Homo sapiens: one gene and its partner. The protein of the gene in region 2 purifies or fractionates together with the protein of the main gene of each other region. This does not show direct contact. Each region holds a gene or a part of one and is shown on either strand. Other genes may lie near its edges.

The links.
Region 1: the proteins of TMEM170A (region 2) and ADGRG1 purify together in Homo sapiens (affinity purification with mass spectrometry; one large-scale study listed by BioGRID and IntAct). This does not show direct contact.

What each region holds. Positions count from the first base shown.
Region 1 is NC_000016.10:57,631,368-57,635,181, reverse strand, and holds part of ADGRG1 (adhesion G-protein coupled receptor G1 isoform b precursor), read right to left. Parts: intron 1-3,814. UniProt on the Homo sapiens protein: Adhesion G-protein coupled receptor (aGPCR) for steroid hormone 17alpha-hydroxypregnenolone (17-OH), which is involved in cell adhesion and cell-cell interactions.
Region 2 is NC_000016.10:75,447,466-75,451,279, reverse strand, and holds part of TMEM170A (transmembrane protein 170A), read left to right. Parts: intron 1-3,591; coding exon 3,592-3,722; 3' UTR 3,723-3,814. UniProt on the Homo sapiens protein: Acts as a regulator of endoplasmic reticulum (ER) and nuclear envelope (NE) morphogenesis. Affects the ratio between tubular ER and ER sheets by promoting sheet formation at the expense of tubules.

The DNA of each region.
Region 1 (3,814 bases), about 18 Mb from region 2:
GGGTCAGGAATGCCCCTATTCAGGTTCAAGCCTGTTGGATAAGGGAGAGCAAGGGGTCCTGAAGATTCAGGAGGTGGGTGTCCTGCCCTCCTGACCTCCCTCAGCCTCTCCCTGTTCACTCCAGTCCTCTTCAGCTGGGTCCCTCTCCCCCTCTGCTCCCTCCCATCCAGCCCACTGAGCTATTTACACATGGACAGGGGTCTCTGAAGATGCATTCATGGCTTTCATGGTGGAGGTTCCTTGGAAGAACCTTGCCAGACAGCCAGGCTATGAAGAGGGTTTCTAGATAGAGGCACCACCTGCCCACAAGCATGGCCTGATGCGGCTAGAAAGACCCATGTGATGCTTAAGGACATAGCGACTCCGGGGAATGTGGGAATTGGGTGCCCATCTCCCCCAAGGCTAGGAAAGCTCAGGGCTGGAAGCAGCCATGAAGAGGAGCCCCATGCGATGCCAAAGTTGCTTCTGCAACGCCCCTGCCACACTTGAACACCTACAAAGGTGGGGAACTCACTACCTATCATGGGAATGGCCATCTGTGGTACTCTGGGGAAAAGTCCAGGCTAAGAGGCAGGAGACTGGGTTCGGGCTCTGCTACCACTGACTGCTCCGAGCTCTTGGGCCTGATTCCTCATCTGTGAAATGTGGATAAAGTTTCAAGTCTTAGAGGGCCAGCAGCACTCAAGATTGAATGAGGGTCTTTGTAGGCAGTGAAGTGTATGCCCCAGGGGCGGAAGTTTGGGCTGTGAGTCGCCCCTGAACTGTTTGGCCCGTGCCCAGATGGTGACACAGCAGAGGAGCAGTGGGCAGAGGGCACAGGGCTGAGCATGACTCAGGGGCCCCTGCCAGCCCCTTGGGCTCACCCCTAGCATCTGTCACCATCAAAGCAGGTGGGTCTGGGCAGTTGTCTGACCCCCTGCCACAGGGTCCGAGACCCAGGGTGCCAGCCACAGAGCCACACCCTGAGGCCCAGACTCAGCCAAGGACCCAGAAGGGGTCAGCTGCTCAGCCTAGCTCCCAGGGGCCTAGGGTGAACTCACCCAGCAGAGAAGTGACCACAGTGCTGTTCTGTCCCAGGAAACCAGCTCGACTGGAACCCAGGCCTCCTCTCCAGGGCTAGGGCCATGGCCTCTGGTCCTTTGAAAGGTCGGCGGTTCTGTGGGTAATGGCTCCAGCTCAGCTCCCCAGCCCAGGGTCACATTAACTCACTCCAAAACCTGGGTCAGGTCTCAGGTCTTGGGGAACATGAAGGAGTCCCAGGCTGGACAATGCCTCGGGGCAGCAGATCAAGACCCCAGGAATGGGCATGTCCAAAGGGGAAGCTGTCACAGGATTGGTGGTTTTCCCGGTAACATCCTGGGAGGATGGCACCATTGTTCCGGATAAAGTCTCCAATGCTCTCTAAGAACAAGGCTTGGTCATGGCCCAGAAGGGGCAATTACAATAGCACTTGAGGTGTGCCCAGCCCTGCACTCAGCACTTAAAATACAGAGGCTCACTTAATCCTCTCAGGATGCCATTACCAGCCTCATGTTTACAATTAGGAAGACGAGGCACAGAGAGGTTAATATACCTGTCCCAGGCCACACAGCCAGTAGAGCTGGGACAGAATCAGGCAGCCCCAGAGCCCACACCCCTAACAGCCCACCTCGTGCTGCCTCTCCTAGGGGGCAGCCTGGCTGAGGGATGGAAAAGCAAAGGTCTGGGACAGCTGGGGACAGGGTCTGCGTCTCATGAGCCCCTATGACGTGTGGCTGTCTCGGTTCATCCCCACAAAGCCGCATTTAGGTATCAGAGACTTTCACAGCCCAAGTAATGAAGTTGTGAGAAATTCAGCCGCTTGCTCTAAGTCATTTTTCAAGGATTTGAGCCTAAGTCAATGAGCCCATGACCTGGAAGATTAAACCTCCAGCTGAGGTTTAGGGAGAACCTCTTGAAGTCATGCACTGTGCTAGGTACATACTTTGCAGCCACTTTTGCCCCAAATTCCACAGCAACCCTGCAAAGGGATGTATTGTTATCTCCATTTACAGGCAGGGAAACGGGTCCAGAGAAGCTGTCATCTTTGGCAGTGGAATGCAAGTCTCCACAGCTCCTCTCAAAAGTCAGCTTTCCCCCATGGGCCTTGAGCATCCAGGCTGGGGGTACTAGGAGGACAGAGACCTGGGGACGGGAGGGGAAAGGGCCTGGGAGGTGGCAGAGGCGGCTCTCTATCTCACTGTTCCTTGTTTTGCAGTTGGTGTAAGTGGCCCCGAGTCTGGGAAGCCAAGCCAGAGCCATTCACCGCAGAACTTTTCAGGCCACCAGGGTTGGGCTGGCTCTTGGACAGCAAGGCCATCTCCCCACCGCCAGGCCATCTCCCACTAATGCAGAGAGGCCTGTCCACCGGTGCCCGGAAGCATGCCAGCTCCTCCGGGGCTGAGCTTTTATCTCTGCCTGGAACTGCCAAGCATACCACAAACTGCCTGAGCCTGCGCAGGCGCCAGCTCGGGAGCCCGACGCCCACCACACTGGCCTCCTCACCAAAGCACGAGTCAGGCTGGAGGTGGGTGAGTGAGCGCCACTGGTGTCCAGGTGGCCGCAGCTCTCCCAGCAGTAGCGGGGGCAGGGAGAAGTGCTCACAGTTATTTCAGGTTATCTCTGGGCCTCAATACAGCCATCTGTCCAATGGGAGAGGTATTAAAAAAAGGCTTAACATTCCCACGTATGGGAAAGGCACTTTCCCATATGCTTTCCTCTATCAACTCTCTTCATGCTCATAATAGCCTCTGAAGCAGATGTGATTGTGATCCACAGTTTACAGATGAGGAAACCGAGGCACAGGCCCATGTTCCCACAACCAGAGAGAAACAAAGCCAAGATTCTCCCTGGGCAAGCCACCCTTGCTGTCTCTACGGGCCCTGTCACCCTACAGGTGCGTGGATTTGGCAGTGGCAGGGGCAGGGTTCAAGACACGAGCATGTGCCTGGCTGGCTGAGGAGCCTCCTCTCCACCAAGGGACAAGAGCCCAAATTCTGGATCCCCAAAGATGTGGGGTTGCTCACTGGGTAAGCCTCCCCTGCCTCAATGTCCTCATCTGAAAAGTGGGTGTCGTGTGCAAGGCACTGAGCCCAGGGCCTGGCAGAATCTGAGGTCAGGGAAGGTCCAGGATTGCTCCCATCCAGGCTGAGCCATCAGGGAACCAGGGAGAGTTTGGGGCTTAGCTGACCTCCTGCCAGGGCAGGCTGGCACTGGGCAGTGGTCAGAAAATGTGTGTCCCTTCCTACTCCCCAACCCTTGGCCCCTCTACCCAGCAGTCCAGACCTAAGACCAGAATCTACAGGGCTCCCCTGGGGGCCTCAAGGAGCCCCAGATGGGGCACCAGAGACAGGAGGAGGGGCAGGGTCTCAGCCAAGTGACGGCTCAGGAGAAAGGAGGCCTGGGAGGCTGAGGCCGTGCCACAGCCCCGCCCCACCCGGTTTGAGAGACCCCTTTGTGCCAGCCCGCCCCGCCCCCCATTTGCCATCTGCCCAGTTGCTGTGTCTGGTCACCCCTGACTGCTGGGTTTGCTCACATGATGTCCCCATCTGCTGTGAGTCAGAAGGCGGGGTCCACAGGGCCACCCCCAGCATGGGGACGGGGGCTGAGCCCTGATCAAGCTCCAGTCTGGGAGGAGGAGGTGGTGCTGGGGTTTGGGGCTCTGTTGTCACACTCCCCTCTCCTCCCTACTTCCACCCGACTTCCCCACGGCCTCCTCCATGGCCTCCCTGGGAGCCCTGCCACATGGAAGCCCATCCTGCATCCCTGAAATGGCACAGCCCCCCAGACCCCACCT
Region 2 (3,814 bases):
CTGTGCCTGGCCCAGTTTTTTTAATGTATTGATTTTTTTTTTCCACCCCCAAGGTCCTATTACTTGGCTAACCTCTTTGACTTCTTGAGTCAGATTTCATCTCAGTGGCTTCAGGGAAGTCATGTTAAACTTTGTGAGATATATCTCGTGAGAGAGGCCACCAGCAAGAGGAAAATTTATCTTTTTGGAAGCTACTTCTCCTCTCTGATCAGCTATCACTTGAGCATTGGCCCTGCAAGATGGTTGGTGAATTACTTCCACTCATGTGGGTGTGGTTGCTGTAAAGATAGAAGACAAATTTTGATGACAAGAATTCTTTGCCAGGTGTAGTGGCTCATGACTGTAATCCCAGCACTTTGGGAGGCAGAGGTGGGAGGCTTGCTGAAGCCTAGGAAATTGAGACTAGCCTCAGCAACATAGCAAGACCCCATCTCTACAAATAAAAATAAAAAATTTAGCTGAGTGTGGTGGTGTGTACCTGTGGTTCCAACTACGTGGGAGGCTGAAATGGGAGGATTGCTGGAGCCAGGAGGTCCAGGCTGGGCTGCAGTGAGTCGTGATCACACCACAGCACTCCAGCCTGGGCCACAGAGCAAGACCCGGGGGAAAAAAAAAGAATTCTTGCTTAGAAAAGTACCCGATTAGTGCTCTAGTTATTTTTTTCCCCTTAGGACTTTCTGAATAAGAATTGGAGTAACATGATGTTATGAATTATTTTCAGGCTTGTTTTTGGGGCGTTTGGTTTGTTATGGCTTTTGCTTATGGGATAAGAAACAGTTACAGAAATGAGAACAATAAGTTTAAATCATTTCAAAGCTCATGCATAAATATAAATGTGTATTTTATATAAACTGAAAATTCTAAGTAATTAAAATGTAAAATCCTCCATTTTCTCATCCCTAAATAATAGCCACAGTTTACATCTTGGTGTGTATTTCTTTTTTTAGGTATAGATGTAAACATAAATACATTTTTATAATATAGAAATGTAATATTCCTACTGATTTGTAACTTTTTTTCACTGTGAATTGAAACCTTAGCATCAAGCAGAAATCGCCCTCTATGTCTTTGACTTGAGGTGTTTTTTTTTTTTTTTTTTGAGAGAAAGTGGCCTAGTTTCTCTGTGTTCTAACTGTATCACCTACTGCTGCTTTGGAGACCCTCTGCCCCAGGATGACTGGCTGCTAGGGCCTGTCTTAGTTTGTTCCTCAGTAAAATAGGGGTAATACTACCCAACCTCATACCCTTGCATGATTGAGCTAATGTGTATATGATGTAATACCTGACACATAGTAATTGTCGAATAAATGTTGTATTCATTTCTGTCTTTAAGGCTCTATGAATAGTCTGTTCCCTTTCCATTTGCTGCTCTCTTGGATATACTTTTTCCTTTCTTCGCTTCATTATCCCAATCCCACTTTAGGGCCCAGTTCAAGTTCCTTAAGCTTCTTTCTATCCAACCCAGTCTTTCTTGTGTACCTAAATTTTGGAGGGGCCCAATGAAACATGTCTTTCAGATGTTAGTAACAAAATGTACGCATTGCCAGTGGAGCTGGGCATTTTAAATCACTAAATGTTCAAGGCAGCCAACCTTTGGTTAATATTGTTCTTTCTTCTTGTTAAAATATGTTAATATACCTTCACATCACATTTGTGAAATGTGCCAGGCATGGTGGCTTATGCCTGTAATCCCAGCACTTTGGGAAGCCAGCTTGGGAGGATTGCTTAAGTCCAAGAGTTCAAAACCAGCCTTGGCAACATAGTGAGACCCTGTCTCTACAAAAAATAAATAAATAAAATAGCCAGGTGTGGTGGCGTGTGCCTGTAGTCCCAGCTGCTCGGGAGGATCACTTGAGCCCAGGAGGTTGAGGCTGCAGGGAGCCATGATCATGCCACCGCATTCCAGCCTAGGTGAAAGAGTGAGACACTGTCTCAAAAAAAAAAAAAATTGTAAACGTGATTGAGACACTGTATGTTATTTTGCATTATTGCAAATCTGTTTCTGTCTTGTGTCCCCAGCTAGATTCCAAGTACCTTGAGAATAGCGATCATACCTTATAAAACACAGAAGTGTTCTGCAGATGAAAATTGGAGTGAATGAACACACTATGACAAAGGAGAATTTTGTTGGAGCATTTTGTGGGGAGGGTCATCTGGGAAATCTGGATCTATTCTTTTCTTTTTAAAATTTTTATTATTTATTTATTTATTTTTATTTGAGAACAGGGTCTTGTTCTGTCACCCAGGCTGGAGTGCAGTGGCATAGTCACAGCTCACTGCAGCCTTGACCTCCCTAGCTCAAGTGATCCCCCTACCTCAGCCACCCAAGCAACTAGGATTACAGGCACGTTCACTACACCCAGCTAATTTTTGTATTTTTTGTAAAGACAAGGTTTGGTCATGTTACCCAGGATGGTCTCAAACTCCTGGGCTCAAGCGATCCTCCTGCCTCGGCCTTCCAAAATGATGGGATTATAGGCTTGAGCCACTGTACTTGGCCGGTTCTTTTTTTTTTTGAGACAGGATCTTGTTCTGTTGCCCAGGCTTGAGTGCAGTGTCGCGATGTGAGCTCACAACAACCTCCACCTCCTGGGTTCAAGCAGCTCTCCTGCCTCAGCCTCCCGAGTAGTAGGGATTACAGGCACGTGCCACCACACTTGGCTGATTTTTTGTATTTTTAGTAGAGATGGGGTTTCACCATGTTGCCCAGGCTGGTCTCAAACTCCTGAGCTCAGATGATCCACCCATCTCGGCCTCCCAAAGTGCTGGGATTACAGGCGTGAGCCACCGTGCCCGGCCGGATCTATTCTTTTCAAACGAATGAAATGTTAACTTTCTTGGTACACTTCCTTGGTATAATGCTGAACTCGTATAGTAACTCAAATGGGTATCTGCATAGATACAGGGGTTTTCGTTTTGTTTTTCCAATTTGCAGGAAATTATAGTGACTAGCGTAATAAAAACAATCAATGACTTGGGAGACAAAGGAATCCCTGAGTATCTCTCCTCTCATGCCCTGTGAATGAATAACAACTTTATGGCTTAGAGTCCTCCTGTCTTCCCTTTTCACCCCTCTAGTCCCTCCTCCGTCCATTTCTTGAAGGGAACTATGAGTGTGATAGAAGGTGGAGTGGGGATTCCCTGTGGCCTGAAACATTTCTTGCTTAGTCTAACTCAAAAGATCCTTTTTCATTTGTTACCAAAAATGTATTAGGTCCCTGTTGAAGGCTAGGCATGGGGTAACTGGTAGGGGAATACAGATATTTTTGAGTTCATAATCTGGTCATGTGGGAATTGCTATCTTTGTGATTTTGATTATTTCTTCCAGATTATTTTATTCAATAAATCTAGGAGACTCTGGGTTTTAAGGAGTCAGCATCTAAAAGTGATCTTGCAAGCCATGCAATGAATACTCAAAGTGTAGAGTAGTCCACAGAAAGAATAGGGAAAACCTAACATTTCTGTAAGATTTAAATTTCAGTATAAAATCTGGAACATTCTACTCGCAGTAGTATTTTAAATGTTGTATTTTCGTGAGTTTGTTAACCTTCGTTTTTTGTTTTTGTTTAACATTCTTGCATTTTAAATCAGGTGCAGCTATTGCTGGAGTTTACCGAGCAGCAGGGAAGGAAATGATACCATTTGAAGCCCTCACACTGGGCACTGGACAGACATTTTGCGTCTTGGTGGTCTCCTTTTTACGGATTTTAGCTACTCTATAGCATACATCCTTATGCTGAGATGTTGAACTTAAACTTTATGGAATCCTCCAAAAGAATACATTATGGAGTGTAGTGTTTTCTTAGTTCTTCAA